Linked DNA regions of Homo sapiens: region 1 is reported to be linked to region 2. Evidence: microRNA targets listed by miRTarBase, many of them from high-throughput screens and not tested one by one. Region 2 holds a microRNA gene; the other region holds the end of a gene's coding sequence.

Region 1 (3,251 bases), not on the chromosome of region 2:
GGGTTTCACCATATTGGTCAGGCTGGTCTGAACTCCTGCCTTCAGGTGATCCACCTGCCTCAGCCTTCCAAAGTGCTGGGATTACAGGCATAAGCCACCACGCCCCACCAATGAAATGTTTTCTAAAGGTGTTTTCATCCCTTTTGTGATCTCCTAAACTCCCAAGGTGTATCACACACTTCGCTGGGCTCTGGGCAAACAAAACTTAGACAAGGTCCCTGATTCTAGAAACCCTCGGTCGAGGGAACCACAAACCAACCAGAGTGGAGGGCAGGGAGAGGTCCTAGGTTGGGAGCTGGGAGCCTGGAGCACGTGCCAGGTGCTCTGCAGCCCAGCTTCATTATGGAGGCTCAAGCGCTGTGAATTTCCAAAAACAGTGAACACACCCCTAGCTGATTGAAATACAAAAAACATATTCCACAGCCAAATGAAAATGACTTTTGGATCCTCCACCTAATTTGGGTGTTTATGCCGCCTCGCCCCTCTTTTGGCCTGGACAATTGAAATATATCTGCTCTCAGGGGAGACGCCCACGGTGTCAGGGCTGGAGTTGGCAAGAGACAGGGGGAAGAGGACTAGACCTGGAGTCAGAGATGAAGTTCTTGTCTGGGATCTGTCACTAAGTCTCAGCGGGGACCCAGGAAGTCACTCCACCTCTCATAGTTCCTCATCCACAAAGTGGAAATACAAGCAAGTTTAATTCTCCATCGTAAGGTTGGAGCTCCTGTCTGTGAAAGGACTGGAAATGTAAAATGCGCTCTTCAAGTACAAAGGCAGAGAGGATCCATAAACAGGCACAGGCTGCCCTTTGGTATAAACTGTTCACATTAAATCTATGTTATGTTGCTCAAGAGTTAAAATAAGCTCAAAGGAGAGGCTGATTCCAATGTCAACCCAGGGAAGACAGACACTGAAATTCCAAACTGAGTTACCAAAAACAATAGATGGATGAGACATGCAGACATGCCACAATCCGGCACATCAGAGTTCGATGTAGTCCTGCTGCAAACACATGGAATCCGAGAAGTCCAATGCAAACGGAATAGATTTCTTGGGATCTAATATTTTTCAAATTGCCTGACCAGCTTACCTTCTAGGAAAACTTATTTAAGGGAGGCAAATAATTTGGGGAGATGAGTATAAGAGGTAGTAGGAGGAAGCTAAGGGAAATCACCACTACATATTGCAGGAATGTATTAGAAGGCAAATATGGCCCAAAGAAAAAGCTCCACTGAAAAAAACATTGAATACTGACCACAGAATTAGCACCTTGCTCCCAGGTCAATAAAGTGAACCAAAAAAATTACAAAGACCTTGCTCAATCCTGAGGTTCGTGAGGAATATAGGAGAGTTGTGTGTTCACGTGACTCCTGAAAACAAAGAGCAGTACTATTCGAAGGGCATGATGTCTTGATCTTAGGATCAAATATTCTAGACCTTGAGCCGGAGAATCTGCATTACAGTAGGAAAAATGGGGAGTGCTTTATGCCTGTGGATTCAGGACACACCAGCAACCTACACGTGTAGCATTCTCTAAGTCATAATGACCATTCTCATCTCCCACTGAGGGCAGGTGTAAGACTCTTCTCTTGCAGTGCTCTGATAGAAAGCTGGGTTTCTTCTTCTTCTCTATAAATCATAGGGAAACCAAATATTTGTACCTGTTACAGCCCCAAAGCTGAAAGCAATAAAGAATAAACACATACAGCAAGCTACGAGGTGCGTCTGTTTAGGAATTGCCTCAACGTTGGGTTTCTATTGATAGAACAGGGGAGGAGGTTGCCTCTGACCTTCCTGAGGCTCCCACTGTACCCTGGCTGAGTAGCCCACAGTTAATTTTAAGTGGCAAAAGAAATGAGAACAAATTCCTCCAGGAAGAGAAATTAGATTTCTGCTAAAACAGTGCTCTCCATAGGGTATATGAGCACATTCGACTACCACTGGAAAATAACCTGAGGGCAGGCACATGGTGCCCACTGTTAGAAATCGTGCAGTTAGATTAGAATGGAAGAGTGTCTGAGTTTTTAGATAATTTTACACGTCAGGATATGGCTAACAGGTCACGTTCAGGGCCTATGCTTGATACTGTCGAAATACAAACAAAAATAACTGCCTAGAGAGAATATTCACGTCCTAAAAGAGAAAATGTTGTATCTGGGTGGAAGAATGATTTAACTCCTGAAACTCGAGAACACAGAACAACAACAAAAATAATTTCCTTGAACATATTCAACTAGAATGGCAAGGCATTTTCCTACATAAAACATTAGAATGTTCCCATTACTCCAAAGGAATCCAATAAATAATTTTACAGTGAAAGAGCCTGGATCAAAACTGGAAGTGACACCGGCCCCCGATGAACACAAGTCACAGGTCCCTGTGCAGGTCCCAGGGCTGAGTCATCCAAGAACTCCACCACCACCGTGAGCCCGGCCTCCGGTTTCATCTTTCCCGAATGGGACTGGCTGGAGGGGCCAAGCTGCTTTACAGAAGAGTTCCATCTGGTAAGCCCGGGTGGTGAGCGAAGCCAAAGATGACAACACGAGAAGGGGTCAAAGCCAAGGTTTCCTCACGCTGCCTTTGTCTTCTTCCTGCAGCCTGGCCCGATGGCTGAAGCTGGGTCCCAGGAGGCGAGTTCTTCAGCGGGGCCTCCTCACCCAGGCTGGAGCAAGTCCGCTGCACCCGTCAAGCGGGGAAGAGCTCGGGCGGGCTTTCTCCATAGCAATACTTTGCTATGGGGTCCCGGTAGGTGTTCTCATGCTGCACGCTCTGTTGGCAAAAGGAAAATAAGAGCGCAGTGAGAGCGAGCACAGCTTCACACACCTCCCTCTCGGAAGAGTGAGAGTGGATCGGGACTGTCAGACTCTCCCTGCAGGGGGCTGGCCGAGTCCATCTCCAAATGTCACTAAAGGCTCCAGGGCACTTTCTGGAACAAAGAAGAATGCTCAACCCAGAATGCCAATGAAGAGCATGAACACAGACATAACATCGCTGTGGGACTGTTTCTTTTTATGTACACCAGTGAGTTTTTAAATAACTTTGCTGTGACCTGGTGACTCAAGACAACTACTTTTCCTCAAATTACTTGAAACAGTCTAAGATCCAATGGGTGTTTTGCACCTGATCCTGAGCTTCACTCAGTTCCCGTAAGGAACCCTGCAGAGACACTAAGGAGATGCACTTTAAATTGCTTTCATAAAGTTTATGTACCTAAAAATTTGGGGCATGAGCCAAATCCTACAATACCATGC
Region 2 (3,282 bases):
TACCATGCCCCTTCCCTCTGCTCATCCCTCCCAGGGTCCTGACCCTCGCCTCACCTGCCCTGGGGCCGGCAGCTGGTGGCCCCTGAGGGGAGGCCCCACGTCTGCAACTCTGGGCAGAAGTCAGGGGTCACTCCTGACAGGCCCTGGAACCCCAGGCCTAGAGATGCCCAGCAGGAGCCCCCGTGCCTGCCCAGGCCTCCAATCTGCTGGCGCCCAGCAGCCTGAGCCCCTTCATGCCAGCCCCTGCCAAGGGAAGGGCACATGGTCGGGGACCCCCACAATGGGTCCTGGGTGCCACCTGGCCTGCAGACCCCCTTGCAGATCTCTGCTCACTGCAGCTGTGCCCGTTGATGGCCCAGCTTCCCTGCACATGGGCGTCACTGCCTCCCGCAAGAGGGTGGGGAGATGGGGAGCCCCTGGGGGCCCCAGCAACCTTCACAGGCACCTCCCCAGCCACGGGCCATGCTGAGGGGCTCCTGTTTGGTAGTCTCCCTGCCAGGCCCAGCACCCCTCAGGCCATCTGGAGAGATGCCACCGGCCCAGGCCTCCCCACTGAGGACACAGACCCCCACAGGTCACCAGCGCAGCATCCGTGCTCACCCCTGTGGGTCCCTGGAGGTGCCTTAGAGTCCAGGCCATTTTAAAGGAGAAATCGAAGAAGGGTCCTTGGGAAGAGGACAGGGCGGGGCCAGCCCAGGCCCCCGGCAGGCCCAACCCACAGGGCCCAGCTCCTAAGCCCACATTTTCAAGCAAAGCTCTTGTGTGAGCAATGAACATTGGTTTCATGGTGCCCTGGCAAGGAGGAACAAGCAGGAGCACCCAGCTGTGGGGATGACCCCGTTCCTCAGCCACCCACTTTCAGGGGGAAGGGTCTCGGGCTCTGCACTGAAGTGTTCCGGGGGCGGGGGCGGCACTCAGGGCTTCACTTACTTGGAGCTGACCACGTGCCGAGCCGGGCTCTCCCCGCGCCACCTGCTGGGTCCTCTCCACGGCTGCGGGACCTGCGGCCGGGCCGCACGGCGCCATCAATGCACAGCTACAGCTGGTTGAAGGGGACCAAATCCATTGGACAGTCGATTTGGTTCCATTTTACCAGCTCTAGCAAAGCATTTGGCTCCCAGATCCGAGGAACAGCGACGTCGGTGAAGAAGGCGGCTCCACCAAGCAGTCCCGATGGAGATGGGGCTTCGCGGCCAGCATCAGGCCCTTACCCCAACTCCCGGAGGGCCCCCACCCCGTGGAGTTTCCCTCAAGCTCTGCAGGGACTGGTGTGAAGGGCCACACGCCCCAACACACACACACACTCAGACATACACAGACACACACACCCGCTCACACGCAACTCACCACCCTCTCGCTCTGCCCGGGCTCCCCCATCGGGGACCCGCAGGGGTCTGGGGAGGGTCGGGGGTGCCAGGCGGCCTCCATGCTCTGGAACTGACACTCACTGCTCTCTGCCTGTCACCGCCCGATTCCTCCACAGCCCTCGCTTCACCAAGTGCCCACTGCCCCCAGCACTAGCCTCAGCTGTGGGATACAGCTCAGACCATCGGGCCCCGCCCCAGGGGGCTCACATCTGTGGGCACAGTGATCTTGCAGGTTTGAGGCCCTTATTCCCCTGCAAACTCCTCCCAGACCATGCTCATAGCTGGAGCAGAGGCAGGACAGACCTCCCAGTGAGCCTTGGGCCCTGGCTAACCATGGGGCAGCCCACCCAGGACCCCGTCCTGCCTGGCTTGCCATGGCCTGGGTGGGACGGGATGGACTCTGACACCACATGGTATCTCTGGGTAGGCAGGACGGGAAGATTCCAGGGACGTCCACATTGCATGGTGGTGGGAGGACAGCCTGAGGGGGCCTTCGTGGCCTGACCCTGGGCCCCATGCCCCAGACCTGCAGCCCTGCCCGCATCTTGCTGAGGGGCATTTCCATGCCCAAGGGAACTGTGAGGATGGAGTGTCAGGACGGAGGTCCGAACGTGACATCACTCTTGCCTGGCTCCCGCGTCCCCCACACCAATGTCACCTTCAGTGCCTTGAGAGCAAGTTCCCTTTTATAAAATGAGTCTCCCTGCAGCCCCCGTTCATCAGGAGCCGTGACAGGTGAGGGAGAGTGTCTCCGGCAGTGCTGGGGATGTGGCACCCATGTGTGTGAGCTTCTATCCGGGAGCACAGGCCGTCCTGGGCAGCACAGGTGAACGCACCTGCTCCTCGCCCACCAGGTTGGCAGAGTGGGCGCTGCGCACTAGGGCCTGTGCCACCTGCCTGCCCGTTGCACACCTGGGGCTGCCCTGCCTGCCTGTCCTCTGGCCTTTCTGTCCCCCTCCTGACATTGCAGGGACAGAAGCTCAGGCCCCTCAGGCAAAAGGGACGGTCGCACAGCACCATGCCCACGCTCCAAGTCCCCTCTGGGAGTGACTGAGCTGGACGACCCCCCACCCCAGCCTCTGCCAGGCCTGCTCTGACCCGTCCGTAGCTGCCTTCCCTGACTGTCCCTGCCACGGTGCCCTCCAGAAAGATCTGTGCCGTGTAGGAGGACCACCTCCTCAAAGTCCCCTATAAGTCGGGGCTGGGCCCCAGCCTTCTCAGCCTCGCGCCCCAAAACAGAGAGGCTTCCGGGCCATCAGCCCACACTCTGCAAACCTCTCTCCTCCTTACTCCAGTAGCACAGAGGGTGCAGGGCAGACCTCAAGGCTCCCAGAGTCCACCCCTCCCTGGCCCTGGAGTGAGGACGGCTCAAAGACCTCGAAGCCGGCACACACTTGTCCATTTATCGCCTGTCAATATTCCTAATGGAGCAGAAGATTTGACAAGATCAAGCCGGGGATTCGAGTCCCAGCCGCGATTCTATCCCATCAGGAGCTGGGAGGTCTGGCATTTGCCAATCAACATAGCAAACAAACTGGTCATTTCACCCGAAAGGCAGCAGAGCACTGGGGCAGGCTGCAAAACCCCCACGGGGAGGCCACTGCGGCCTTGGATGAGGCATCAAGCTTGGCGTTGCAGCCGCCACGGTGGTGGGCGTGAGCTGTGAATAGACACCGAGCGGCCAAGTGCCAGGTGCGGCCCTGAGCACCGACAGCCACCGTCTTCTCCCATACACCCCACTGTACCTCAAGGCCAGTCCTGTGCTGCCCCTCAGGAGGACACTGGGGCTCACAGCAGCGTCCCCTGCCCCGGGGCCCAGGCCCTTCTCTCTTCATGCTGCCCCATGAGGTGGCAGCCAGCCTCCAGGTACCCTCACCCCAATGTGGCCTGGCTTAGGGAGGTTCCCAGTCATTCT

The links. Region 2 holds the annotated microRNA hsa-miR-133a-5p (AGCUGGUAAAAUGGAACCAAAU, at 1,077-1,098, opposite strand). A microRNA usually pairs through its seed, bases 2 to 8, with sites in the 3' UTR of a target mRNA and lowers its output. Matches are read on the target gene's strand: a 7mer-m8 pairs with bases 2 to 8, a 7mer-A1 pairs with bases 2 to 7 and ends in A, and an 8mer does both.
Region 1: miRTarBase lists SPRING1 as a target of hsa-miR-133a-5p. The part of its 3' UTR that is shown has no 7-base or 8-base seed match.

The regions. Positions count from the first base shown.
Region 1 is chr12:116,715,125-116,718,375 of GRCh38, forward strand. SPRING1 (SREBF pathway regulator in golgi 1) reads right to left here. Exons shown (of 5, transcript NM_024738.4): 5 at 1-2,769. The coding sequence ends at 2,686. Among named protein-coding and RNA genes, the nearest start is that of SPRING1, 21 kb to the right of the region's middle. RefSeq lists enhancers at 2,068-2,597, 2,598-3,127.
Region 2 is chr20:62,562,749-62,566,030 of GRCh38, reverse strand. It overlaps MIR133A2 (microRNA 133a-2), which reads right to left and starts at 1,119; the gene lies at 1,018-1,119. It overlaps MIR1-1HG (MIR1-1 host gene), which reads right to left. Exons shown (of 4, transcript NR_171007.1): 3 at 931-1,042.